7 linked regions of the Homo sapiens genome follow. The protein of the gene in region 5 purifies or fractionates together with the protein of the main gene of each other region. This does not show direct contact. Each region holds a gene or a part of one and is shown on either strand. Other genes may lie near its edges.

Region 1 (3,500 bases), on a different chromosome or scaffold from region 5:
CCACATCTTTTTAATGAGTAGTCAAACTTCACAAAAGCTACTCTGACCCAGTGGCCTCAAGAAACAGGAGGGCTACATCAACTTGGAGAAATTCTCTGTAGGTAACTTGGGATAGGGAGGCCAGGGCACCCAGGAATCACACACACTATTCACTGAGATTCCTCCAAAGTTATTTTCTAATCTGTTTCAAAGCTGTCCTCAAACACTGTTGTGGACTGAATGTTTATGTCTCCCTAAAATTCATATGTTGAAATCCTAACCCCCAGTATGATGGTATTAGGAAGTGGGGTCTTTGGGAGGTGATTTAGTCATGAGGGTGGAGCCCCTATGAATGTATTAGTGCCCTCATAAAAGAGACTCCAGAAAGCTCCTTTGCCTCTTCTACCATTTGAGGACGCAGCAAGAAAACAGCCATCTATGAACCTGGAAGTGGGCTCTCACCAGACACCAAATCTGCCAGTGCCTGGATCTTGGACCTCCAGCCTCCAGAACAGTGAGACATAAATTTCTGTTGTTTATAAAGCCACCTAGTCTATACTATTCTGTTATAGCCGCCTGAAGAGACTAAGTCATGCATGAGCAACTGGAAATCTATTTTTTGCAACATTTTCTTTGAACCCAAATGCTTAGGAACAGAGGGCATCTGATTTTGCAGAACTCCAAACACTAGGTTTTATACTTAGAAAAATAAAAGCCTTTACAGGCTCCACGTTTTCCATTTAGCTGTAATTCTTGGGCTCAACCAATAGATGGCAGCATTAGAGAGAGCAGAGGCAGCTGTGCAATCCCCACGCCCCGCTCCACACCCCCCAACCTAAAGAGAGGAAGAAGGGGCTGGCAAAGGAAATAGGTATTGGGGTAAAGCAAGGTGCAGCCACCTTTCAGTGACTGTCCTATATGCCTGGCTCTTTGATGAACACTTTACTGTAAGATGACAACAGGGCGAGTCAGGCATTAGCCCTATTTTACATAAAAGGAACCTGAGACTGAATATTGATATCTTTTTCCTGAAGTCACACAGCTAGCAAGTGGGGGATTGGCATGCAAAGCCACGTGTGTCTGTTCCCATCCCACCTCACCTCCCTGAATGTCCAAGAGGAGATGTGTTGGGGAGGATAACTAAGGCCATCTCCACCCTGTCCTTTGCACGTGCCCTCATGCCATTCCCTTGTAACTCCTGTAGCTCTCCTTTGTCTGTCAACCAATCTGACCTCATAACTTTCCTGAGGCCAAGTCTCAGACCATTCCACCCCTGCAACAGGTGTCCTGTACCAACTTTTCCTGGCCACATCACTCTCTAACTTATGCTCTTCAACACTAACCAGGTGTTTAGGCCCTGGGTATGCAAAGTGTGGTCTGTGGACCAGCAGCATCAGCACCACCTAGTTAGAAATGCAGAAACTCAGGCCGCACCCAAGACCTACTGAACCTGCACTCCAATAGGCTCTCAAGGTGATTCATGTGCATGCTAAAGCTTCAGAAGCACTAGGCTAGCTTACCTTGTGTACCAAGGACCTCAGATGTCTCTGGTCACAGCTAGTGAGTAAAGAGACTGGGTTTCCAGAGGTGCCTTCCTATGCAGGGAATGTTGGGTTGCTTGCTCGGGTCCACATTAAGAGGTTAGTGGTTTTAAGGCTTAGCCCCCATTCTCGGGAAAGGGGTACTTCTGTCTTTGCCTCCTCCAATTCCCAACCTGTCACAGCTCTGAACAATGAGCCAGCAGGCCCTAATAAGAGAGATATTGGCAAAGCCAAGGGATTGAAATTCCACCACCCTGGGCCCCACAGGCAGGAGAGAGACATGCTGGAGCAATGCTATGACCTTGGGGCTATCCAGTGGGAAAGCAATGGAACCATCTTATCAAGAAGCAAGGAAGGCATTGAAATTGGACCTGCTTTCCATCAGGCACACAGAAACATCACTCTCCATCAGTTAGGCCGGAGACAGAAGGAGCTGACCAGAGGCCACGGCATTCCTGGGCTAGACGGGAACCCACTAACTGGAATTGCCTGGTCTCCCATGCAAACCTTGTCCCCACGCCCTCCCCTAGCCCACGATGACTTACTTGTGATTCCTCCTTTCTTACCTAAGAATCCTATGAAATAATACGCGTTATTTGGTTTTCCTCCTAATGCCCCTAAAGACTGTGGCATCTTAAAACACTCCTGGAGAGAAAGACAATGCAAGATTCTCAACTCACTTGTGGACTGCTGCTCACGGATCTCTGTGCTGAGATGGCGGTGTGATGGGCAGGCAGCAATGGGCTCAGGGAAAGAAGTGACTTACTTTGAATGCATCAACATAGACAGGATTGATTTGGTTTATGCCCAGGCGAAGGGGCACAATGAGCAGCAGGGGTTTCCAGGCTGAGCAGTAGGCAGAGGTGCCCTTACTCTGGTTTGAAGCAGTTAAAGAATCGGGAGGCCTGTCACCAGCTGTGTCAGCACTCAAGGGAAGGACACGGCACATTTTTTCTAGAAATGGAAGAACAGAATATTGGATAAGTAAGGAGTCTTCAGCCCTAGAAGATATTCCAATATCAAAACTAAGGGGAACCTCACATGCCCCCCACCCTGCCTAGAAGGCCCTCTCCTCTGCCACCAGGGCTCAGCTGACTCCCCGCCTGCACAAAGCCCAGGCCATTCCTCTAGGGCTCATGCTCTTCATTCTGGCCACTGGGTACTTGTTTAGCTCCCAATAGGGATTCTGGGCTTATTGGAAGAATCTCATTTCTCAAGTCTGCCAGGGCCTTTGAGACAGGGACTGTATCTTTAGGTTGCTCTCACTCCTCAGTGCAGGAATCACACGCCTGGACAAGGGTGAGCCTCCATGAAAGATCTGTTGGTGGTTGAATAAATTATTATACACACTTTGTGTTTTCTGCAGGGAAGGAGTGTGGTACCTCACTGAGGAGGAGCAAGGCCCCTCTAATGGTGTTCTCCCTCTCAGAAAGCTGAAAAGAAAGAGAATCAGAGCCCTGTGCTCCCCTAAGCTCCCCTGCCCTGGTGGGGAAGACCAGAGAGACTCTCTTGAGCCCCAGAATACTGAATGGTGAGGGAGGAACTCATCACCCATCAGCTGGGAAGTTAAACAGGCTGGTAACTCACTGATATCTTCAATGACCACTGTGTTATCCATTGAAACATAAACAGCCAAGGAATTCCATTCGTCAAATAAAGCAAGTTTTCTGCAAAGCAATGTATAATGAAGTCACAATTTGGGAAGATGGAAATATCAGCAGAAAACAGTACAATTTATGCCCAGTGTTCCTAAAGTCACCAAACACTGAGCCATAGAAAAGCTGGTGTTCAGGTCAGCTCTGGCTTCTTTGCCAGAGCTCTGGGATGCTCCATGTCTAGAGACCTTGAGAATGCCACAGAGTCACTGTATCTGAACCTCAAAAAGAAGTTTCTGCTTTACAACCTGGAGAAGTCTACTTCACAAAATGACGGGACACCTACTGGGGAAAAAAGAAAAGTTACCCATGCATCTGCTCTCAA
Region 2 (3,500 bases), about 73 Mb from region 5:
CACACAACCAAAAGTGACAAACCCTTGTCATTCCACCCTCTTTGAGAGTTTAGTATACCTAAAACATTTGTTAAATTCCCTCATTTTTACCCACCTTGAAATCCAGCTCCTAACTTGCTGGTCCTCCTCAGTTTCTTCATGCTTACCTAGCATATTAGGTGGGTCAATCTTACGTCAACCTCTCAAACATCAGCAAAGAAAAAATGGTGCAAATACTTTTACTGAAGCTCACAAAAAAAGGAGGGGGGTGTGTCCCCCCAACCCGTGTGTCTGAACAGCTGACCTGATTGTGAAATAGAAGCAAACGCCGTGCACTCACCTGGGGGAGGTATCCACAGCACGTCACCACGTCAAATCCAAACCGGGCCACAAAGGGCCGTTCCTCCTGCCCACCTCCTCTCCCTTGCAAGCAAAAGTAAAAGAAAGGAAATTAGTTCCAAGGGATCCCAGCGCCCACTCTCGAAACTGAGTCACCTTCAGACACGACCTCAGCGAGCTCCTACCAGCTTATGCCCCTGCCAGAGACAAACAGGGCCTGGGTCTCCACCAGCTCACACAACACCCCTAACAGAGCCTGCTCCAGCAGATGTCAGCATCAAAAACACTAGGAGCCTGTGGCCTCCAGCAGACGTCAGCATCAAAGACACTAGCTGCTCCCGAGCAGGGGCACCAGAGGACACACACAGGACAGGCAGCCTGCGGGCACCTCTCAGGGGACCTGTCTCACATCCCAACACGCGGGGGTGTGGGGGAAGACCACACTGTGTCAGGAAACAAAGGGGAGGATGTTCTTAAAGAGGAAAGGCACTTTGGGAGGCTGAGGTGGGCGGATCACCGGAGGTCAGCAGTTCGAGACCAGCCTGCCCAACGTGGTGAAACCCTGTCTCTACTGAACATATAAAAATTAGCTAGGCATGGTGGCAGGCGCCTATAATCCCAGCTACTCGGGAGGTTGAGGCAGGAGAATCACTTGAACCCGGGAGGCGGAGGTTGCAGTGAGCCGAGATCGCTCCATTGCACTCCAGCCTGGGCAACGAGAGTGAAACTCCGTCTCAAAAAAAACCATAAAAATGGCCGGGCACAGTGGTTCATGCCTGTAATCCCAGCACTTTGGGAGGCCAAGGCAGGTGGATCACCTGAGGTCGGGAATTTGAGACCAGCCTGACCAACATGGAGAAACCCCATCTCTACTACAAATACAAAATTAGCTGGGCATGGTGGCGCATGCCTGTAATCCCAGCTACTCAGAAGGCTGAGGCAGGAGAATCACTTGAACCCAGGAGGCGGAGGTTGCGGTGAGCTGAGATCGCGCCACTGCACTCCAGCCTGGGCAACAAGAGCAAAACTCCATTTCAAAAAAAACAAAACAAAACAAAACATAAAAAACATAAAAAGTAAAAAACAGGCCAGGCCCAGTAGCTCATGCCTGTAATCCCAGCACTTTGGGAGGCCGAGGCAGGTGGATCACGAGGTCAGGAAGTCGAGACCATCCCGGCTAACACGGTGAAACCCTGTCTCTACTAAAAATACAAAAAATTAGCCAGGCGTGGTGGCAGGCGCCTGTAGTCCCAGCTACTTAGGAGGCTGAGGCAGGAGAATGGCGTGGACCCGGGAGGCGGAGCTTGCAGTGAGCAGAGATCATGCCACTGCACTCCAGCCTGGGGAACAAAGCAAGACTCCTTCTCAAAAAAATAAAATAAAAATAAATAAATAAAGAGGAAAAAGAATCTGCCCCCAATCCATCAGAAAGGATGGCTCTCAGTGGCAAACCTGGTGCCATGTGTGTCAGATAAACTATTGTGCTTTGAAATAATCTCAGGCAGGGTGCAGTGGCTCACGCCTGTAATCCCAGCACTTTGGGAGGCTGAGGTGGGTGGATCACCTGAGGTCAGGAGATTGAGACCAGCCTGGCCTACATGGTGAAACCCCGTCTCTACTAAAAATACAAAAATTAGGTGGGCACAGTGGCATGCACCTGTAATCCCAGCTACTCAGGAGGCTGAGGCAGGAAAATCGCTTGAACCCAGGAGGCAGAGGTCACGGTGAGCCAAGATTGCACCACTGCCCTCCAGCCTGGGGGACAAGAGTGAAACTCCGTCTCAAAAAAAAGAAAGAAAGAAAGAAAGAATCTCACTCCTCTGCAGTCTCCCTAATTCAAGGAAAATCCCAATGGACTAAACTCCGTTAAGACTGGAAGAGACAGGACAGGCGACCTGGGAGGCCTCTCAGTGGATCCTCACCACACAGGCCGCCTGGGTGGATCCGTCATGGACCCTCACAGAACAGACTAACAGCATGTCTCCGTCTCCTACAGCAGGCCCCTGGTGATCTGTTCCGATCATCAGCAAATCTCCCCACATTTACCATGTGGGCTGCACACGGATTCCAAATGTCAGCAGATTAAAATACCGGAAAATTCCCTCGATCCTGACAGCGCGTTATGCTCTGGAAAGGTCAGACATGATGGCTGTAATTCTGAGCCTCAAGTATGACTGTTTTACAGGAACAGACCCTGGGTTAAAGGTCTTGCCTTTTACAGACAGCCAGAGAGCCTCTGCTTACACTCTTCTGGGGAACGAGAGGTAAAAGTAACTGTAACACTAGGGGTGTCTTGTGTCCAGCAAATGTTTTCATCTTTCAAATGCATTTAGGACACAACAGACGCATCACAGTCACTGTGTTCAGTGCACCGTGAGATGCGGCTCAAGGCCGACATTCCCTTGCTCTGCCATCAGCCCACGTCCGACCCTCCCACGGCTGCTGCACGGCCCCCGCTCTGAGCCCACACCGGCTGAACGTCCTCCTCTAGGCGGGAGCACCCGTGGCCCGCGCAGTGCCATACCCACTGTGCCCGCCTCCTTCAGGCGCATCTCTCCAAGCTTCTTGTTATCAAGGTGTAAATCGGCCAGCTGGGCTCCAAGCTTTGCAGCATGACTGTCAAATCAAACGACAGCAACTAAACAGATGACACACAGAATGGCAACACACCCACTGCTCAGTCTCAGGGCACATAAAGAGGGTCAAACTTTTTTATTTTTTTGAGATGGAGTCTCGCTCTGTCACCCAGGCTGGAGGGCAGTGGCACGATCTCGGCTCACTGCAAGCTCCGCCTCCCAGGTTCAAGCGATTCTCCTGCCTCAGCCTCCCGAGTAGCTGGGATTACTGGTGCCCGCCACCATGCCTGGCTAATTTTTTTGTATTTTTAGTAGAGGCAGGGTTTCACTGTGTTGGCCAGACTGGTCTCAAACTCTGACCTCAAGTCATCCGCCCACCTTGGCCTCCCAAAGTGCCGGGATTAGAGGCGTGAGCCACCACAGCCGGCTAGTAGGTCGGACATTTTGAGGACAGAAAGTAGGTTCTGGTGAAGCAAGAGGGGGATAAAGGTGTTGATTATTTGACGATCTTTCCCAGCCTCATCCAAGTTTGCAGTGGTTTTTTTTTCCTCTTTTTTGAGACTGAGTCTCGCTCTACTGCCCAGGCTAGAGTGCAGTGGTGCGATC
Region 3 (3,500 bases), on a different chromosome or scaffold from region 5:
TTTTCCTACACTGAACATTTTAATAGAATGCAATTTAACATCTTCTAAACTTGAAGAATTAACTGTTATGGCATAAGCAAAATAATTAAGTCAAGATGGAAAGGGTCTTACCTGAACAAAATACTGAGTTACCTCTAAAGTAACGTTCATATGTGGTTTTTAATCTCAGGAATGACCAGATAACTCAAATAAATAATCATTTTCACTTTTATAAGGCTGCAGATATAGCACTGTTTAGTACATTCTTTTAACTTTCAAATATATTAAAATCCTTGCCTTCCATTGAGGGCTGAGTTGTCAAAATCTGGAAAGTTAGTGAACTCTCAGTCATTGCACTTACTTGATCTCTTCCTGATTTATGTGATGTCATGTGACGTTCAAGTTGGGTTCTGTATGCAAAGGTGTAACTGCACAGGGAGCAACTAAAGTTATCTTCATTCTTTTCATGACGATATTTAATGTGTTCTTTCAGAGAGGTAAAGCGTTTATAGCCTCTATCACAATATGGACAGGTGAGTAATTGTGAAAATGCATCTGGTGTTCCTGTAAAAGAAAGATCATATATTTTAAATTTAAAACATTCAGAAAATATTACCAAAGTTTCCACTGAGTCCCTATGCTATGTTCCAGATATTGTGCTACCCACTTTATATTTGATCCTCAAAACAATGCAATGATACTCATCTCTATTTTATAAGAGAGAGAACAGTGGTTTCCAGGAAGGTTAAATAACTTAAAAGAAAAGTCACAGAGCCAGAAAATGATGAAGTCAGGGTTCAAATACGGGCTGTCTGACCTTCAAGTCCCATTCTTTTTCCCTAAACCATAATTCTTCCCTTTTGTCATGTGATTAGCTAGAAAAGAAAACAAAAGTAAAATTAGAATGTAGGTTGTCTTTGTAAGTGTATACAGATTAAAGGGGAATTTTGTGCTCTACAACAGAGTCTATTGGTAACAATGGTATGTATCATTATTTATTTAATGTTTATTCCTCTGATTTTGAAAATGAAACTACCAAGTCATCATCATCAAAGAGTAAACAGTACACACACACTATGTTTCCAAGAGTCCCTTGCAGGTAGGTGTGGCCATAGGACTGAGTTCAGACCAAAAAAATAGTGTGTAAGGTGGGGAAGGAAAGACTGATGGGGGCCAGATCTAGGCCTGCTACATAAACACATCCCATGCATGACCCTGCTTGTAATTTCCCCTATTGAAATACACTGGCAAATCTGCTATATAACTGTATATGTATGAATATATATAGCTTTTAGAAAACAAAGGCATTCTGAATAAATTAGTTTACTGAATGAACTTTATTTTTACACTTGGAGCTGTCTAAGCCTGACAATCCTAAAATGTAATATTTTGCCAATTAATATTATTTAACTAAGAGTAGTTTTCCATATTTGACATTTCTTCAATGAAATAAATTAAGTGATATCTTTTTGTAAACATCATCTCTATTTTCATTTTGAATTCACTATAGAAAAACAAACCACCACAGATAATTTCATAAAATCTCCAAGTGCTTTCTGAACATATATTCCTTTATTCAAGTCCATATAAATCAAATGTCTTGCTCAAGGACCAGACTGCAAATAATAGACTGAGCACCTGAATGTTAAATAGTTGGTCAAATATGTTGAGAGAGGGGCTTCAAGATGGCTGAATAGAGGCATCTGGTACTCACCTCCTCTACAAGGAAAAACCAAAATAATGAGGTAATAATCACACTTCACATAGATCATCTAAGAGAGAACACTGGAATTCAACAGAAAAGTGACAGGAAACACCTCAAGTAAGGAAGAAGGAAGTAAAGCAACCTGCAAAGGCTCTCCAATGCAGGGAAAGAGTAAGTGAGAGACCCCCAGGGGTCCACATTCCCACCATGGACTCCTGCAATCCTAGCCATGGGAGAACCCCTGGACCATCGTGGGCTCTGAGACTAACACAGGGAGGTATGTGGAGACCACATGACAATGCTGCTCCGGAGAGGGAGCTTATGCTGAATCTGTACACCCCCTGAGTTCTAAGTAGCTACAGCACAGCACTATTTTGAGAGCCCAACCCCCAACAGACTACATCCTGTTGAGCCCCACTGACATACCTCCCTTCCCAGTCATCACTAATGCTGGTTGCGGCTGCTAAGGCTGAAGTGCAAGCCATTGGCAGTGACCATACCTCCTCCCAGCAGAGGAGCTGCACACATTTTTACATGCCCCAAGGACAGACTCCCCAACAGACTGCTGCCACTGTGGGCTTCCACCGCTGGGGACAAAGTGCTAGCCACTGGCAGCGACCCTAATTTCCTCAGCAGCTGAGCTGCTAAGCATTTATAAGGGACCTGAGGACAGGCTACCCCATCCACAGCCGCTGTCTGGGGCTAAAGCGCACATTTCCCAGCTCCCTCCCTATGGCTGCTGCCACCAAGAGCAACCTTGCCCTCCCCAGTAAGAAGGCCACAGTGCAACCACTGATGTCCTTACCTGAGCACTCTGCTGGTGGCCTGGGATCATCCTGCCCCTGCCATGATAGCCAATGCCTACACACACCACCAAGGGGCCTGAGGACAGGTCCATCTGGCCCAGCTTACCTCCTCCCCAGTTTCCGAGCATGCTATTCAGGGACGTGGGGATGACCCAGCCCAGTCCAACACTGTTGTCACCTGAACACTCCTCCTGGAGGCCTGAGGTTGGGTCCACCCAACCTGCTACTATCACTACAGCTGGCACCCTCCTGCATGCACCACCGGTAGGCCTGGGGACTGACTCACCCAGCCCATTGCAGTCACTGCCAACACCAGCGTGAATCACTAGGGAACCAGAGGGTGTCCTGCCACTGCTACTGCCATTGCCCAAGTGACATCCACTGCCCAGGAGCCTGAGAACCTGCCCACCTGCCCAGCTTACCACTGCCACTACCAGCACCCAAGCAAGCCACCTGGAGTTCCAAGGATCAGCCCAACTGGACCTGCTAACACAAGGTGTCAATGTGCCACCCTGTGGTCTAAGGACAGGTACTGTAAGCCCGTTACTACCACTGCTAGGGCCCAAGGAATGGTCCACCTGGCATCCCTGTCCCAGCCAAACTTCACCTCAGCCTCCACTAACAATTGCACCTAAGCCAACGAGGAAATCACGGACCCTACTCACACTATTTATAACGAAAGATATCATACAGAAATTACACTACCACATGTACCCAGAATCAAAGCCAAAGTGCCCTACTCAACCAATGAAAGCAAATCCAAAAAACCAGAATAATTGACTATTATACCAGATGTGTGGTATCAAGGTAAGAATACAAGAAACATGAAAAAGGAAGGAAATATGACACCTCCAAAAAATACAATAATTATCCAGCAACAGATTCCAATCAAAATAAATTTATGAAATCCTGGAAAATGATTAAAAATAATGATCTTATAAAAGCTAAGTGAGATAGAAGAAAACAGAAAAGCAACACAAAGGAACCAGAAAAACAAATCAGGATATGAA
Region 4 (3,500 bases), on a different chromosome or scaffold from region 5:
GGGAGGACCCAGGTCGGCCTTGTTTCTGCTGAGTCCCCGTGGCCTCACCTAGAGCTTGGTATGCAGCAGGAACCCCATGACCATCTCCTGGATGAAGCTACAACTGACCAATCGAGTGAACAGAGGATGCTGTCACTTATGACCAGCTACAACTCTTCTTGTGTCAGTGCCTCAGTCTGCCCTTCCCAGCAATGCGGGAAGAATCCATCAGCGCCAGGCGTTGGCAGGGAAGCCAGCCCTGCATCCCATGGCCTGAAGCTGAGCTAGCTCTACTAGTCTATGCTCCTCAGAAAACACAAAACCATCTGACAGGCACACGCTACCTATGGCAACATCACATAAAAAGAAAACATTTTTGTTCACCTCGAAATTCCTTTCTAACAAAACAGAATACAATTGTCTTGGGCTATCAGAAGAGTAATTATTACAGGCTTGGCTTCATGGTCACTAAAGAGCAGGCGGCTCTATCTTAAAAGGCTTGGATTCAATCTTATGTCGCATGCTGGACAAAGCCAGCAGGAGCTCACTGAGAGGCTGGGTGTGTGAAGAAATGAAGAGCAAAAATTTTCTATTCAGAACTCAGGTCCTCCGAGGCTCACGTTATCTCCTGAAACGTGAGGGCATGGGAAGCCCCAGAAGCTGACCTACAGGATCCATGGCTCTTGCCCAGACCTGAAGGAGCACTTTGTTCCTTTAATATTCACCACCTCCATCTCCACTCAAGTTCTCTGCCTTGTCCCCACGGGCTCTAAGGGAGAAGAGAGGGAGCAGAAACATGACCTCGGAGGCGGGCAGGAAGGGTTCATGGAGCACAAACTGTTTATGACCCCCTCTCACCAGCGAGGCATAAAGCAACACGGTGGTCTCTGCCCTGGGCAGGGGCAGAAGTCGAAGTTCACATGCGCAGCCTGGAATTACACTACCAGACTGCAACGAGGCAGCATCTGCTCATTCATGTCAACTCGATTTTATTGAGCACACCCCTATGCCAAACACTGGGTCAGCTCTGGGAACATCAAACTATAAAGACGTGGTTCCTGCCCTGAAGCAGCTCGAGCCCAGCCAGGGAGAGGAGGCAACAACAGAAGCACAAGCAGGTGCATGAGCAAAACAGAGCAGCTGACACCCGAAGCCACCAAGACGACACCTGAGCCAGGCCTTAAAGGAGAGGAAGACATCTGCCAAGGGAGGAGGGCAGGGTGTTTGGCCACAGCACGTTGCATGAGCAAATCCTCAGACAGGACAGAGGAAGGCCTGGTGCGCTGGAGGAAGTTCAGGGCAGCGGGGAAGCTGGCGTCTGGTGGATGGCGGCTGGAGGTGGCATCAGAAGGCGCCCTGCAGACAGACTGTGAAGGCCGGGGATGAACCTTCAGGAATATCCATGGAGGGTCTCTGGTCTTGCAGTTACCCTCCGACAGATGTGGTGGCCAGGATGTCACAGGACACACGGGACTCATCATCAGGTGCAGCCCCCCACCCCATCCACATCACCATTTTGTTTTCCTTGTAGGCAAACATGCTGACTTCACATAGGTGCTATTTGTTTTCATGTCTATTAACTGTCCCCTCCATGTCTTCTTCCCTTCTATGTCCACAGCATCTGGACAGTGCCATACTCAGAGCAGACACTCAGGGATGGTGGTGAGGTTCCAGTGTGAATGGGAACAGGGCTGTGACCAGGGATCCTGTGGGCCCGAAATGGCCTGGGTGGCCTGCTCAGGGCTAAGTCACCCAGCAGCTCATGGCTCATCAAGTGGAAACCTTGAGTCTGGACCAACAGAGGCTTTATGGGAGAAGGAAAGCTCAGGCTAAGGACGCCTTGATGGTTGGCACCTCACAGGTTACCCAGTGCAGTCAGCTGCCTCAGAGCCTGAGATCTAGAGCCAGGCCAGCTGAGTTCTAGCCCAGCTCTCCACTGCCGAGGCTTGTGGCCTCAGCCAAGGAGTCTCTCCTTGTGGGGCTGCAGCCTCCTTGTGTATAAGGCGCAGACACAAATGTTCCTGCCCTGCCTGAGCTGCCGTGAGGACAGCTGAGAGGACACAGGCCAGGCCGGTGACTGTCCTCACTGCCACTGGCACTCATGGACCCTAGGAAGGACCCGGCTTAGAGCAGAGGGCAGAGGCCACCATGCCTCTTGCCAGGTGCTTCATGGCATCTGTGGCATGAGGGAAAGAGCTGTCTTCAAGGGTGTCCCCTGGCCTGGGGCAGGGTAGTGCTACCGCCTCTGTCTCACCTGCTCGCCACCTTTTTCTCCTCATCACTCTCGTATTCGGCGAGGACCAGCTCCTCCTCCCCAGACTCCAGCTGCTCCAGCCGCTCAGCCTCCGGGCCTGTCTCTAGCATCTCCCTGCTGAGGCGGAGGAGATTCTCTCTTTCTTCTTCTTCCTGCCTCTGGACAGGGGTAGTGGAGGTGGTGAGGGAGGAAGAAGTCTCAGCACCAGTACCCACCTCCCCACATGCCAGAGACAAAGCACACCACGCCCCATTCACATAGGCCTGGCTGCCTGGCTGGAGAGAGGTCGACTCCTAGGATCCACGCCTCAACCACTCACAGCCCAGCTTCTGTACGGGAGCACATAGCCAGTGAGGGTCACGGAGGGGAGACCAAGGCCCTGACCACGCACCCATGAGCCTCCAAGCAGAGCAACCCTGCCTGGACATAATCCTGCCCCCCAAGAAATGAGGCTCACCAGGCGCTTGGCTGCATACTTGAGCTGCACCCTGTGCTGCAGCTGCTGCAGGCGTTCTTCTCGCTGCTTCCTCCTGGCCTGCTCCGCCTACAGGAGGCAGACATGAAGGAAAATCACCAAGGAAGCCCAAAACCAGGCCTCTCCTAAGGAGTCTGGGCCACTCAGCCCGGCGCCTCCTCACTGGGGGCATCTCTCCTTCCCCGGCCAGCACTCAAGGGCTGCCGCATCCCCTCCCGGGACCTCATCCCTGCCGGTCCCAGCCTCGCTGCTCACTGCGGAAGGCGGCACACTCCTCCCAAAGCCACACGCTCTCCATCAGATCCATTTGCAGCCATTGAACCATGCTGCCAATGGCAATGATCAGGTCCTTTCCCAGGTGAGTAATAAATGGGCACCAACAGTTCCTTATGTGGAGAAGGCCTGCTGACCTCCAGCTCAAAAAAGACAGCACAGCGGCAGCACCATAGACCCAAGGAGCTGAGGGAAGAGCTGAGAGGCACGGCAACGGCAGGGGAGCATGCACTGCCTGAGTCTCGGAATCGCCCCAGAACAATCGCTGAAGCCCTGTTTCCTCCAGTACTCCCACTTCCGGATACCCCAGGTCTCACCTTTAGTCGGTCCACCAGGTCCCTCTCTTCTTTCTTCTGCACAAACTGAGTAACCCAGGCCGGTTCTCCAGCAGGCCTCGGGGTGCCTGCAGCCCCTTCGCAGGAAGAAGACAGACACAGGGATTCATCTTTCTCATCATGTAAGGGGCCAGTTCCAGTTTCAAGGAGTCGTGCCTCTTCTTCACGCTTCTTCTGTTCAAAG
Region 5 (3,500 bases):
AGTTTATTGCAAAGAGTAATATATGCACATACTAAAAAACAATAATTCAATAAGAAAAGGATGATAATGAAGTCTTCCTTCTACCTGGCCTTCATCCCGTGGTACCCCTTCTCAGGGGACAGCCACTTTTAGCAGTTCCTTCAGCATCTCTCCAGGGACTTTTGCTATACATGTGTGAGCATGTGGGCATCTGGGTGTAAGCAAATCACTTGTCTGTGTGTCCACACATGCACATGCACACAGCACGTGATGGCCGTGGGACCCACTCTTAGACTGCAGAGCCAAGTCTCCAGTCTCGTCCCACACAGGTCTGTTCTCTGTTCATGCCTGCCAAAGGGACTGGTTTTAATAAGACTGAGGACCAGGACAATCCTTACCACTGCCAATCAAATCAGGCAGTCTGGGCTTTTTTTTTTTTTTTTTTTTTTTTTTCCTTTCTTTCTTTTAATTTTCCCTTGAGATTTAAAGGAGACTTTAGAGGCCAGGTGCAGTGGCTCATGCCTGTAATCCCAACAATTTGGGAGGCCGAGGCGGATGGATCACTTTAAGTCAGGAGTTCGACACCAGCCAAGCCAATATAGTGAAACCCTGCCTATACTACAAATACAAAAATTAGCTGGGCGTGGTGGTGCACATCTGAAACCCCAGCTACTTGGGAGACTGAGGCAGGAGAATCGCTTGAACCCGGGAGGTAGAGGTTGCAGTGAGGAGAGATTGCACCACTGTACTCCAGCCTGGGTGACACAGTGAGACTCTGTCTCAAAAAAATAAAACTAAAAATAAAGGAGATTTTAGGATGAGACAAAGCAAAAATGCAAGATTTAATTAACTGAAATGCTGGTTCTGAGTCTTTTTTTTTTTTTTTTTAAGACAGTGTTTCACTCTTGTTGCCCAGGCTAGAGTGCAATGGCATGATCTCAGCTCACTGCAATCTCCACCTATGGGTTCAAGTGATTCTCCTGCCTCAGCCTCCCAAGTAGCTGGGATTACAGGCACCTGCCACCACACCCAGCTAATGTTTGTATTTTCAGTAGAGATGAGGTTTCACCATGTTGTCCAGGCTGATCTCGAACTCCTGATTTCAGGTGATCCCGCCCGCCTCGGCTTCCCCAAGTGTGGCTCTGAGTCTTTACGTCAATCACATTAGTTTGGATTCTTCCCCCAGGCTTCTCTGCATGTTGATTCCCAAGTAGGGCTACCAGATTTAGTAAATAAAAATACAAGATGCTCAGATAGATTTGAATTTCACATAAACAATGAATATGTTTTTAGTAGAAATATGTCCCATGCAATATTTGGGACGTATTTACACTAAAAAGTTATTCAATTTTTATCTGCAATTAAAAGTCAGCTGGGCATGGTAAATATTTTTCATCTGGCAACCCTACCCCCAAACAACCCTCAAACCTATCTTCTTGTACCAACATTCTCTTCTGGGTGAGCAGCCGGCCCTTCCAACTCAAAATCTCTAAAACCAGCTCATCCTTTTAATGTAGGTGTCATCTTTCAGGTTCTCCTTCATATCGGTCAGCTGTTAAGCATTCTGGATGCTGGTTCCCAAATGTCTCTACCCTTCCCCTATAGAAGAGTCTCATTCCAACTGTTGAGTTTCACCTACAGCTGACCCAGACAACAATATCTACCTAAGGAGGGACCCAGCCCCTAGGTTCTCCCCTTGCCAACCCACTGACTTCATGGTAGACCAGACCAATTTTCCTATAGCTCAGCTGAATATTGTCATGCTCTGACTCCAAATCGTTCCTTACTCTCCTGCTCACCACCAAATAGTCCAAGCACCCTCTGTCGTTCAGCCCCAAACCATATCATTCCATGTTTCAAAGCTCCAGGTAAGTAATCCACCTAGCTGCCCCAAACACTCTTTCCTACTTCTACAGTCTAGACCTTTACTTTTTTTTTTTTTCTTTTTTTGAAATGGAGTTTTGCTCTTGTTGCCCAGCTGGAGTGCAATGGCACGACCTTGGCTCACTGCAACCTTGGTCTCCTGGGTTCAAATGATTCTCCTGCCTCAGCCCCCTGAGTAGCTGGGATTACAGGGGCCTGCCACCACACCTGGCTAATTTTTGAATTTTTAGTAAAGATGGGGTTTCGCCATGTTGGCCAGGCTGGTCTTGAACTCCTGACCTCAGGTGATCCACCCGCCTCGGCCTCCCAAAGTGCTGGGATTACAGGTGTAAGCCACTGCACTTGGCTTAGACCTTTGCTTTTGTTCTTCCTTCCATGTGAAATCCATTCCTCTCCAGTTAATCATGATGATCTTTTAAGCCTGACACTCTTCATCTTAGCCTGGCTATAGTACCTGACAACCTTTTCAGAAAGGAGGTGACAACTTCAAGAAGCAAGACAAGATAGGGCCTTAAAAATGTCCCTCTCCATAAACAGCAATTCCACTTTTGGTGATTTTGCCTTAGGAAATGAGAGATACAACCAGAGATGTCTGTATATATCAAAGTTATCTGGGTGAAAACTTATGACATACTCAGATGGCCTTAAAATTTATGACTGATGAAATACAAATGATAAAGAAAATAATAATCCGGTCATAGAAGAAAAAATGCAAAAATACATATTTGAGATTGTTTTATGTATATATTTATAGATAGAAAAATAAAAGAGCAGAAAATACATGGCAAAATAGTAGCAAATGGTTATCATAGAATAATGGGATCATGAGCAATTGTTTTATTTTCATTTGTAAATGACAAAGTTTTTTAACAGTGAACATTGTTCTTTGTCTTTTTCCAGTTATAAAGTATTTGGCAGGTATTTCTTGGAATTTTTTTTTAATAACCTATTGATGAATACAGAAGACATTCCCCTAGAAAGTCTATGGAAACAGGCCAGGGGTGGTGGCTCACACCTATAATCCCAGCATTGTGGGGAGCCAAGGCAGGCAGGAAACGAGGTCAGGAGATTGAACCCATCCTGGCTACCAAGGTGAAACCCCGTCTCTACTAAAAATACAAAAAATTAGCCGGACGTGGTGGCGGGCACCTGTAGTCCCAGCTACTCGGGAGGCTGAGACAGAAGAATCACTTGAACCCGGGAGGCGGAGCTTGCAGTGAGCCGAGATGGTGCCACTGCACTCCAGCCTGGGCAACAGAGCGAGACTCCATCTCAAAAAAAGAAGGAAAAAAAAAAAAGAAAGTCTATGGAAACATAACTAGAACTGCACAAAGCAGTTCCCAAACAGTTAACTAGCTTGGGAAGAATTAACTGTAATATTTGGTTACTTATCTCACATCTTTTTTTTCCTTTCTTTTCTTTTCTTTTTTTTTTTTTTTTTGCGCTAAGGGCTTGCTGTGTTGACCAGGCTGAACTCCTGGCCTCAAGCGGTCCTCCCATCTCGGCCTCTCAAAGTGCTAGGATTACAGGCATGAGCCACTGTGCTCAGCCCTAGATTTGGTTATTTCTCTCCTTCAACATGGCATAACTCTACCTGTATGTATGTTTTATTTCCCAAACATTGATAATTTTTAACA
Region 6 (4,277 bases), on a different chromosome or scaffold from region 5:
GAGAGGATCTCGGCCTCTCGCCCCAGGCTGAGTACCCGGCGGGCGAAGGCGGCTGCGGCCCTGGCCACCTGCTCCCGGCCCTCAAGCTCCGCCAGCCTCTCCCGAGCAGCTTCTTCGGCAGCCTCCACGTGGGCTCGTAGCTGCCCCAGCACCTCCTGCTTCTGGGCCAGCAGGGCCCGGAGGACGCCCTCAGCCGCCTCCTCCACCTGAGTCCCCACCCGGGCCGCCTGCTCCCGCAGCCGGGCTAGCGCCTCCTTCTCCACCCTCCGCGCTGCCTCCAGCTCCACCAGGTTATTGTCCACACCGGCCAGCAGTCCCTCCAGGCCCGGCCTCCGGGCACGCACAGCTTCAGCCAGAGGCAGGCAGGGGTGGTCCAGGTGGGGGTCTAGGCGGCACTCTCTGCACAGCAACTGTGAGCAGGGCTGGCACAGGAAGCGCAGTGCCTCCCCGGGGTGCTGGGGACACTGGGCCGCTTGGCGCTCCCGGGCCTCCTCATCATACCACCCGGCCCTGTAGCCCACCAGGTCCACCACGCGGTGGGTGTGGGTCTGGCGGGTGCAGCGGTGCCCGTCGGCACAGGCCTGGCACAAGTCATCGGCACAGTCCAGGCACCGGGCCGTGGCCGGCCCCCCGGTGCTGGTGCCACCCACCAGGGGACACAGGGCACAGGCTGGCTTCCCGGCACGCAGGTCTCCACAGGCCCGGGCCTTCACCAGGTCCAGCAGCCCATTGACGAAGAAGTTGGTCTTGAAGGAGGCCACACCCTCGGGCGGCACAGGCACTGTCTCGCGGCACTCGGGGCAGCGGACGCGGCCGCCATCCGCCAGCTGTGCCAGGCAGTCTTGGCAGTAGGTATGCAGGCAGGGCAGTGTCTTGGGTGCCCGCAGCTGCTCCAGGCAGATTTTACAGGCCAGGAAGTCGCTGCTCAGGGCCTCCAGGAGGGAGGGCGAGGACCCGTGGGAAACCATGCTGCAGGCAGAGGCGTCAGGATCAGAGTTGAGAAGGCACCTTCACCAGCTCACCCTCTAGCTTCTACCGCCCGTCCTCAAGCCCCACGGATCCCCAGGGCTAGGGGCTGACCCAAATGGCCGGGAAGGAACCTGAGGTCTCACCTGAATGGCCAGGAACTTCCTTCTAGTCTTCTGAGGCCTTGGGCCACTTGCTCTTGAGCTAAGGAGCTGCCCTCCTCCTTCTCCTCCTCCTCCTCCACTTCCGTGTGTACATCCAGCAAACGTAAAAATGTCAGTGCTACTTGTTGGGTCAGACCTGTGAGAACTGACAAGACCAGGAGTCCCTGGCCTTAGCTAATAATCGAATCCTCAGTGTCCCCAGTCCACAGGCCTTGTGGCAAACATGGTGGAAGCCCTCCTGTGTGCACAGGTACTGGGGTCCTGCTGTATAGGGTGCCAGGGTGCGAGGAGCAGGCAGTAAGGACACAGACGGGGATCCCAGTGGGCAGAGATGCCTAGGTCCTGCCAGTTGGGGTAGGATCTTGCAGTAGCTTAGGGGGCTTTAATCCTCCAAGCCCCATACACCTGCCTTCTTTTTATTTTATTTTAGTTTTTAGCAATAGGGTCACCCTCTGTCACCCAGGCTGGAGTGCAGTGGCGTGATCGTAGTTCACTGCAGCCTCAAACTCCTAGACTCAAGTCTTTTGAGTAGTTGGGAGTACAGGCATGTGCCACCATGCCCAGCCTTTTTTTTTTTTTTTTTTTTTTTTGAGACAGAGTCTCACTCTGTTGCCCAGGCTGGAGTGCAGTGGTGCGATCTTGGCTCACTGCCACCTCCACCTGCCAGGTTCAAGTGATTCTCCTGCCTCAGCCTCCCGAGTAGCTGTGATTACAGGTGCGCACCATCACACCCGGCTAATTTTTGTATGTTTAGTAGAAATGGAGTTTGGCCCTATTGGCCAGGCTGGTCTTGAACTCCTGACCTCAGGTGATCCGCCCTCCTCGGTCTCCCAAAGTGCTGGGATTATAGGCGTGAGCCACCATGCCCAGGGGCCCAGCCAGCCCATTTTTTAAAAATTATCACTTTTTGTAGAGATGGGGTCTTGCTATGTTGCCCAGGCTGGTCTCCAACTCCTGGCCTCAGGCTATCCTCCCGTCTCGGCCTTCCCAAAGCATTAGGATTACAGGCATGAGCCACCGCACCCGCCTGGCCTTACACCTGTCTTCTGCTAGACCTGGGGCAGCATCGCGGGTGGTGGAGGCCCCACTTTCTGCATTTAACAGTTTCTAAAGCGGATTCTGGAGCGGGCAGAAAAAACGCTAGGGGAAGGGCTGGTCCCCTTCCCGCTGCTGGCTCACCCTCTGATAGACTTGGCCTTGGCTTATCTCCTGGAGTCCTGTTCTTTTAGCTTTTCCTGCTGAATGCATTCCAGAAACCTCTGGAGGGAGGGAGTCCCGAGCTCCTGGCACAGTGGCTGAGACCTACTTGTTGGGCAGACTAGGTGGAATGTCCCCTTTTCTGGAGCTGGGAGGAGACCTCAGAGAGTGGGACGGGGTCTTTCTTGCGGGGACCTGTGGCCACGGAGCGGGAGGGAGGCGAGTGCAGTTTCCCTCCTGCCCTCTCCTCCTGCCTTCCGGGTGCCTCTTCACGCCCTCCCTTTCCTTCCCTTCCTCCTCCTCCCGCGCTCTCTCTCCACTCCCCTCCCCCTACTCCCTCCGCTCGGTCCTTCCTATAGCTGTGCCGCCCCCCACCCCTTACCTAGCCAGAGCTGATCTTGACCTCTAGGATGGTGAGGGGGCCTGAGGCCTGGAGGCCGCCGTTGCTGGGTGCCTGGAAAAGAAACAAAACTGAAACTAATTGTACTTGTGGTGCAACTTCCGTCCCAGCCAGGGACACACCGACTCGCCTCGCACAGCCTCAGGCCCCGCCTTCCTCCCCACCCGGCCCCGTCCTCTCCCGCCAAGGCCCCCACCCCGGCAGGCAGCTGGCAGGCTTGGGCTGGAGTCCACCAGCCAGGTCGGCCTGTCAGTCCAGCCTCAGGGCTAAGTGTGTGTATGTCACAAACAGGGAACTACCTGAGGGCGGGTTCTCTGAGTAGAGGGTGGAGGGTCACAGGGTTTATTTGTGGGAAGAAATGAGAGCTCATCTGTGATTCAGAGACCAGGGTAACTAGACACATGGCCTCAGGGCGGGTCTGCAGATTTGCTAACACCTCAGGCAGGCAGGTGCCTGCAAAGCTTCAAGAGAGGCCTTTCATTCCATAAACCGTTGCTGAGCTGTAGGAGAGGCTGTGGGGGATCAGGTAAGAAGCCTCTTGCTGAGGGAACAGCACAGGCTTCCTGGAGAAGGCATCAATGAGATGAGTTTAAAGAAGGCGGGAGGATTGCTTCAGCCCAGGAGTTCAAGACCAGCTTGGGCAATATGGTGAGACCCAGTCTCCATAAAAAATTCGCTAGCCGTGCATGGTAGCGCATACCTGTAATCCCAGATACTCAGGAGACTGAGGCAGGAGAATCACTTGAACCTGGGAGGTCGAGGCTGCAGTGAGCCATGATGGTGACACTGCACTCCAGCCTGGATGACAGAGCAAGACCCTGTCTAAAAAATAAAACAGTAAGAGGGCATAGAGGGCTGGAGAACACTGAGAAGAATGTTCCTGTTCCAGGTACTGGGAGCAGCAAGGGTACATCCCCATTTAGGATGATGTGTGTGGAGAGGATACGAGAGTGTTGGCAGAGAAGCCTGCATTTTATCAAAAAAGACAAAAGAATCATTGCAGGAGATTTCCCTCAACATTTCATGAAAAAATAATTTTTATTTTGAGACAAAGCCTCGCTCTGTCGCCCAGGCTGGAGTGCAGTGGTGTGATCTTAGCTCACAGCAACCTCCGCTTCCCGGGTTCAAGCGATCCTCCTGCCTCAGCCTCCAAAGTAGCTGGGATTACGGGCACTCACTGCCACGCCCAGCTAATTTTTGTATTTTTAGTAGAGATGGGGTTTCACTATGTTGGCCAGGCTGGTCTCGAACTTCTGACCTCAAGTGATCCACCCACCTTGGCCTCCCAAAGTGCTGGGATTACAGGCGTGAGCCAACATGCACAGCCTCATTTTATGAAAAATTCAAAGCACAAAGAAGTTGAAAGAATTGCGGTGAACACCCATATCTCCACCACTTCTGTTCTACAATTATCATTTTACCGTAATTAATTCATGACATACCTATGCATGTTTGTACCTTTTTATCCACATGGCGGAATTTAAGTAGGAAACTGAAGCTGTAAGAGCTCACTCTGGCAGCAGCCGAGAGGACAGAAGGGAGCCTGACCT
Region 7 (3,500 bases), on a different chromosome or scaffold from region 5:
ACACACCCCTCCAACCCTGCGTGTCCGGAGTGGCCACAGGCTGCCCAGCCAAAGGCTACATTTCCCAGTGTGCGCTGCCAGGAGGGCCACGTGACTAAGTTCTCCCTCCAGGAATGAGAGTGATCATGAGGTGTGCAGCTACTGGGACATCCTCCCACCCTCTTCCCCGTCACAGTGGCTGGAACATGGATGTAGTGGGAGAGCCAACCACAAGGACAGGGACAACACTGGGCTCCCCAACAACCTTCCAGAGCAAAGCTGTCTGCCAACCCTGCACACTTGCCTATCTTCCAAAGCGTTATGTGGAGAAATCAATTTGTATCTTTCTTGGGCCACTGTGTTTTGGGGGCTCCTTGGTACAACAGCTTAGACCTGAAATAAGCATGGAAAAATTCTGAACTGATGGAGTATATGTTAGAAATGTTCAGGGAGGTTCATAACAGACACTCAGCATTAGAGAGGGGCCAGCTCCTGACAGACATGCAACACGGATGAATCTTGAAAGCAGGCTGTGCAGAAGGCAAAGTGCACACTGGGGGAATGAGGAGTGACTGCTTACGGAGTATGGGGTTTTCTGTAGGGGTGATGAAATGTTTTGAAACTAGACAGAGGTAATGGTTGTACAACACTGTGAACGTACCAACTGAATTCTTTGCTTTATTATTACTTTCTCTCTTTATTGAGACAGGATCTCACTCTGTTGCCCAGGCTAGAGTGCAGTGGCATGATCTCAGCTCACTGCAGCCTTGACCTCCCGGGCTCAGGTGATCCTCCCACCTTGGCCTCCTGAGTAGTTATGAAGACAGATGCGTGCCACCATGCCTAGCCAATTGTTTTTTGGTAAAGACGGGTTTTGCCATGTTGCTGAGGCTGGTCTGAAACCCCTGGGCTCAAGTGATCTGCCTGCCTTGGCCTCCCCAAAGTGCTGGGATTACAGGTATGAACCACCACGCCCAGCCATTGTTTGCTTTAAAATGGCTAATTTTACCTCCATAAAAATTGTACAATACCATTTAGACAAAGTTGTAGAATACACTAAAGTGATCTACAGCGCTAGAAATCAGACTAGTGGCTGCTCCTAGGGTAGGAGAGACTGGGAAGGGTATGAGGGGGTTTCTGGGGTGATAAAACACACTATACAGCTGACTGTACACTGGAGACCTGGGCATGGCACGCCATGTAAATGCCACCTCAATTATAAACATAAAAGTTTGGAGGCTCAATTCCACATCTAGGGACGTACACTGTAGATATATTATCACATAAGAAAAACTGCATTTATAAGGTTATTTCCGGAAGCATCGTTTGAAATCCCCAAGGACTGGAAACCACCTAACTGTCCTCCCCCAGGGGGCTATTTAAATATGTTAAGTCCGTTCAATGGAATACTATGCAACTGTGTAAAGGAATGAGGAAGCTCTTTGTGTACTGATAGGGAAGGTTCTCAAAGAGGCATTGTTCAGTAGATAAAGCAAGATGCACAGTGGTGCACTCACAATTTTATCTTTTGTGTTGAAAAACAATGTCTAAGAAAACGTTTACCCTGATTCTAGTCATTAAGAAACAAACAGCCTGGGTGCAGTGGCTCACGCCTGTAATCCCAGCATTTTGGGAGGCCAAGGAGGGTGGATCACTTGAGGTCAAGAGTTCCAGACCAGCCTGACCAACATGGTGAAACCCCATCTCTACTAAAATACAAAAATTAGCCAGGCGTGGTGGTGGGTGCCTGTAATACCAGCTACTTGGGAGGCTGAGGCAGGAGAATCACTTGAACCTGGGAGGCAGAGGTTGCAGTGAGCTGCGATCACGCCACTGCACTCCAGCCTGGGTGACAGAGCAAGACTCTGTCTCAAAACAAAACAAGAAAAAGAAACAAACGAATCCAAGGTGAGGGGTGACAACACTGGTCTGTAATCTTTAAAACTGTCGATGTCATGAAAAAGTAAGTTGCCTGGGCTAGGAGGCTCACGTCTGTAATCCCAACACTTTGGGAGGCTGAGGTGGGATGATCACTTGAGGCCAGGAGTTAGAAACTAGCCTAGGCAACATGGTGAGACTCCATTTCTACAAAAAATTAAAAATTAGTCAATCTCTACAAAAAATTAAAAATTACTTAAGCATGGTGGTGCATACCTACAGTCCCAGCTACTTGGGAGACTGAGGTGGGAGGATCACTTGAACCTGGGAGGTGAAGGCTGCAGTGAGCCATGACTGCACCACTGCAATACAGTCTGGGCAAGAGAGCAAGACATGTCTTAAAAAATGAAAAAGTTGCCATGACAATGTGTGTTATCCTAGGTTAGAACTTGGATTAAAAAAGTAAAATGATGGGCCAGGTGCAGTGGCTCACGCCTGTAATCCTAGCACTTTGGGAGGCTGAGGCAGGCCGATCACCTGAGGTCAGGAGATTAAGACCAGCCTGGCCAACGTGGTGAAAACCCCGTCTATACTAAAAAAAATACAAAAATTAGCTTGTCATGGTGGCGGGCGCCTATAATCCCAGCTACTTGGGAGGCTGAGGCAGGAGAATCGCTTGAACCTGGGAGGCGGAGGTTGCAGTGAGCCAAGATTGCGCCATTGCACTCCAGCCCGGGCAACAAGAGCGGGGGAGTGGGAAAAAAAAAGACCTCTCCCTCTCCCTCCCCCTCCCCCTCCCCCCTCTCAGTCTCCCTCTGATGCCGAGCTGAGGCTGGACTGTGCTGCCGCCATCTCGGCTCACGGCAACCTCCCTGCCTGATTCTCCTGCCTCAGCCTGCTGAGTGCCTGGGATTGCAGGCACGCACCGCCATGCCTGACTGGTTTTTGTATTTTTTGGTGGAGACGGGGTTTCGCCGTGTTGGCCGGGCTGGTCTCCAGCTCCTGACCGCGAGTGATCTGCCCGCCTGGGCCTCCCGAGGTGCCGGGATTGCAGACGGAGTCTCGCTCACTCAGTGCTCAATGGTGCCCAGGCTGGAGTGCAGTGGCGTGATCTCGGCTCGCTACAACCTCCACCTCCCAGCCGCCTGCCTTGGCCTCCCAAAGTGCCGAGATTGCAGCCTCTGCCCGGCCGCCACCCCGTCTGGGAAGTGAGGAGCATCTCTGCCTGGCCGCCCAGTCTGGGAAGTGAGGAGCGCCTCTTCCCAGCCGCCATCCCGTCTAGGAAGTGAGGAGCGTCTCTGCCCGGCTGCTCATCGTCTGAGATGTGGGGAGCGCCTCTGCCCCGACGCCCCGTCTGGGATGTGAGGAGCGCCTCTGCCTGGCCGCCACCCCGTCTGGGAGGTGTACCCAGCAGCTCATTGAGAACGGGCCATGATGACGATGGCGGTTTTGTCGAATAGAAAAGGGGGAAATGGGAAAGGAAAGAGAGATCAGATTGTTGCTGTGTCTGTGTAGAAAGAAGTAGACATAGGAGACTCCATTTTGTTCTGTACTAAGAAAAATTCTGCCTTGGGATGCTGTTAATCTACGGCCTTACCCCCAACCCCGTGCTCTCTGAAACATGTGCTGTGTCCACTCAGGGT

The links.
Region 1: the proteins of USP43 (region 5) and ATG4A purify together in Homo sapiens (affinity purification with mass spectrometry; one large-scale study listed by BioGRID and IntAct). This does not show direct contact.
Region 2: the proteins of USP43 (region 5) and FN3KRP purify together in Homo sapiens (affinity purification with mass spectrometry; one large-scale study listed by BioGRID and IntAct). This does not show direct contact.
Region 3: the proteins of USP43 (region 5) and ZEB1 purify together in Homo sapiens (affinity purification with western blotting; one study listed by BioGRID). This does not show direct contact.
Region 4: the proteins of USP43 (region 5) and DDX11 purify together in Homo sapiens (affinity purification with mass spectrometry; one large-scale study listed by BioGRID and IntAct). This does not show direct contact.
Region 6: the proteins of USP43 (region 5) and TRIM56 purify together in Homo sapiens (affinity purification with mass spectrometry; one large-scale study listed by BioGRID and IntAct). This does not show direct contact.
Region 7: the proteins of USP43 (region 5) and POLD1 purify together in Homo sapiens (affinity purification with mass spectrometry; one large-scale study listed by BioGRID and IntAct). This does not show direct contact.

What each region holds. Positions count from the first base shown.
Region 1 is NC_000023.11:108,136,778-108,140,277, reverse strand, and holds part of ATG4A (cysteine protease ATG4A), read right to left. Parts: intron 3,188-3,500; coding exon 3,108-3,187; intron 2,475-3,107; coding exon 2,287-2,474; exon of another isoform or gene 2,201-2,286; intron 2,166-2,200; coding exon 2,087-2,165; intron 1-2,086. UniProt on the Homo sapiens protein: Cysteine protease that plays a key role in autophagy by mediating both proteolytic activation and delipidation of ATG8 family proteins.
Region 2 is NC_000017.11:82,719,706-82,723,205, reverse strand, and holds part of FN3KRP (ketosamine-3-kinase), read right to left. Parts: intron 2,935-3,500; coding exon 2,843-2,934; intron 403-2,842; coding exon 320-402; intron 1-319.
Region 3 is NC_000010.11:31,507,716-31,511,215, reverse strand, and holds part of ZEB1 (zinc finger E-box-binding homeobox 1), read right to left. Parts: intron 544-3,500; coding exon 341-543; intron 1-340. UniProt on the Homo sapiens protein: Acts as a transcriptional repressor. Inhibits interleukin-2 (IL-2) gene expression. Enhances or represses the promoter activity of the ATP1A1 gene depending on the quantity of cDNA and on the cell type.
Region 4 is NC_000012.12:31,083,860-31,087,359, reverse strand, and holds part of DDX11 (ATP-dependent DNA helicase DDX11), read right to left. Parts: coding exon 3,299-3,500; intron 2,778-3,298; coding exon 2,691-2,777; intron 2,392-2,690; coding exon 2,234-2,391; intron 2,228-2,233; exon of another isoform or gene 1,148-2,227; intron 1,135-1,147; exon of another isoform or gene 49-1,134; intron 1-48. UniProt on the Homo sapiens protein: DNA-dependent ATPase and ATP-dependent DNA helicase that participates in various functions in genomic stability, including DNA replication, DNA repair and heterochromatin organization as well as in ribosomal RNA synthesis.
Region 5 is NC_000017.11:9,652,017-9,655,516, reverse strand, and holds part of USP43 (ubiquitin carboxyl-terminal hydrolase 43), read right to left. Parts: intron 1-3,500. UniProt on the Homo sapiens protein: May recognize and hydrolyze the peptide bond at the C-terminal Gly of ubiquitin. Involved in the processing of poly-ubiquitin precursors as well as that of ubiquitinated proteins.
Region 6 is NC_000007.14:101,084,004-101,088,280, reverse strand, and holds the start of TRIM56 (E3 ubiquitin-protein ligase TRIM56), read right to left. Parts: upstream 2,801-4,277; 5' UTR 2,710-2,800; intron 1,276-2,709; 5' UTR 1,113-1,275; intron 970-1,112; 5' UTR 969-969; coding exon 1-968.
Region 7 is NC_000019.10:50,390,847-50,394,346, reverse strand, and holds part of POLD1 (DNA polymerase delta catalytic subunit), read right to left. Parts: intron 1-3,500. UniProt on the Homo sapiens protein: As the catalytic component of the trimeric (Pol-delta3 complex) and tetrameric DNA polymerase delta complexes (Pol-delta4 complex), plays a crucial role in high fidelity genome replication, including in lagging strand synthesis, and repair.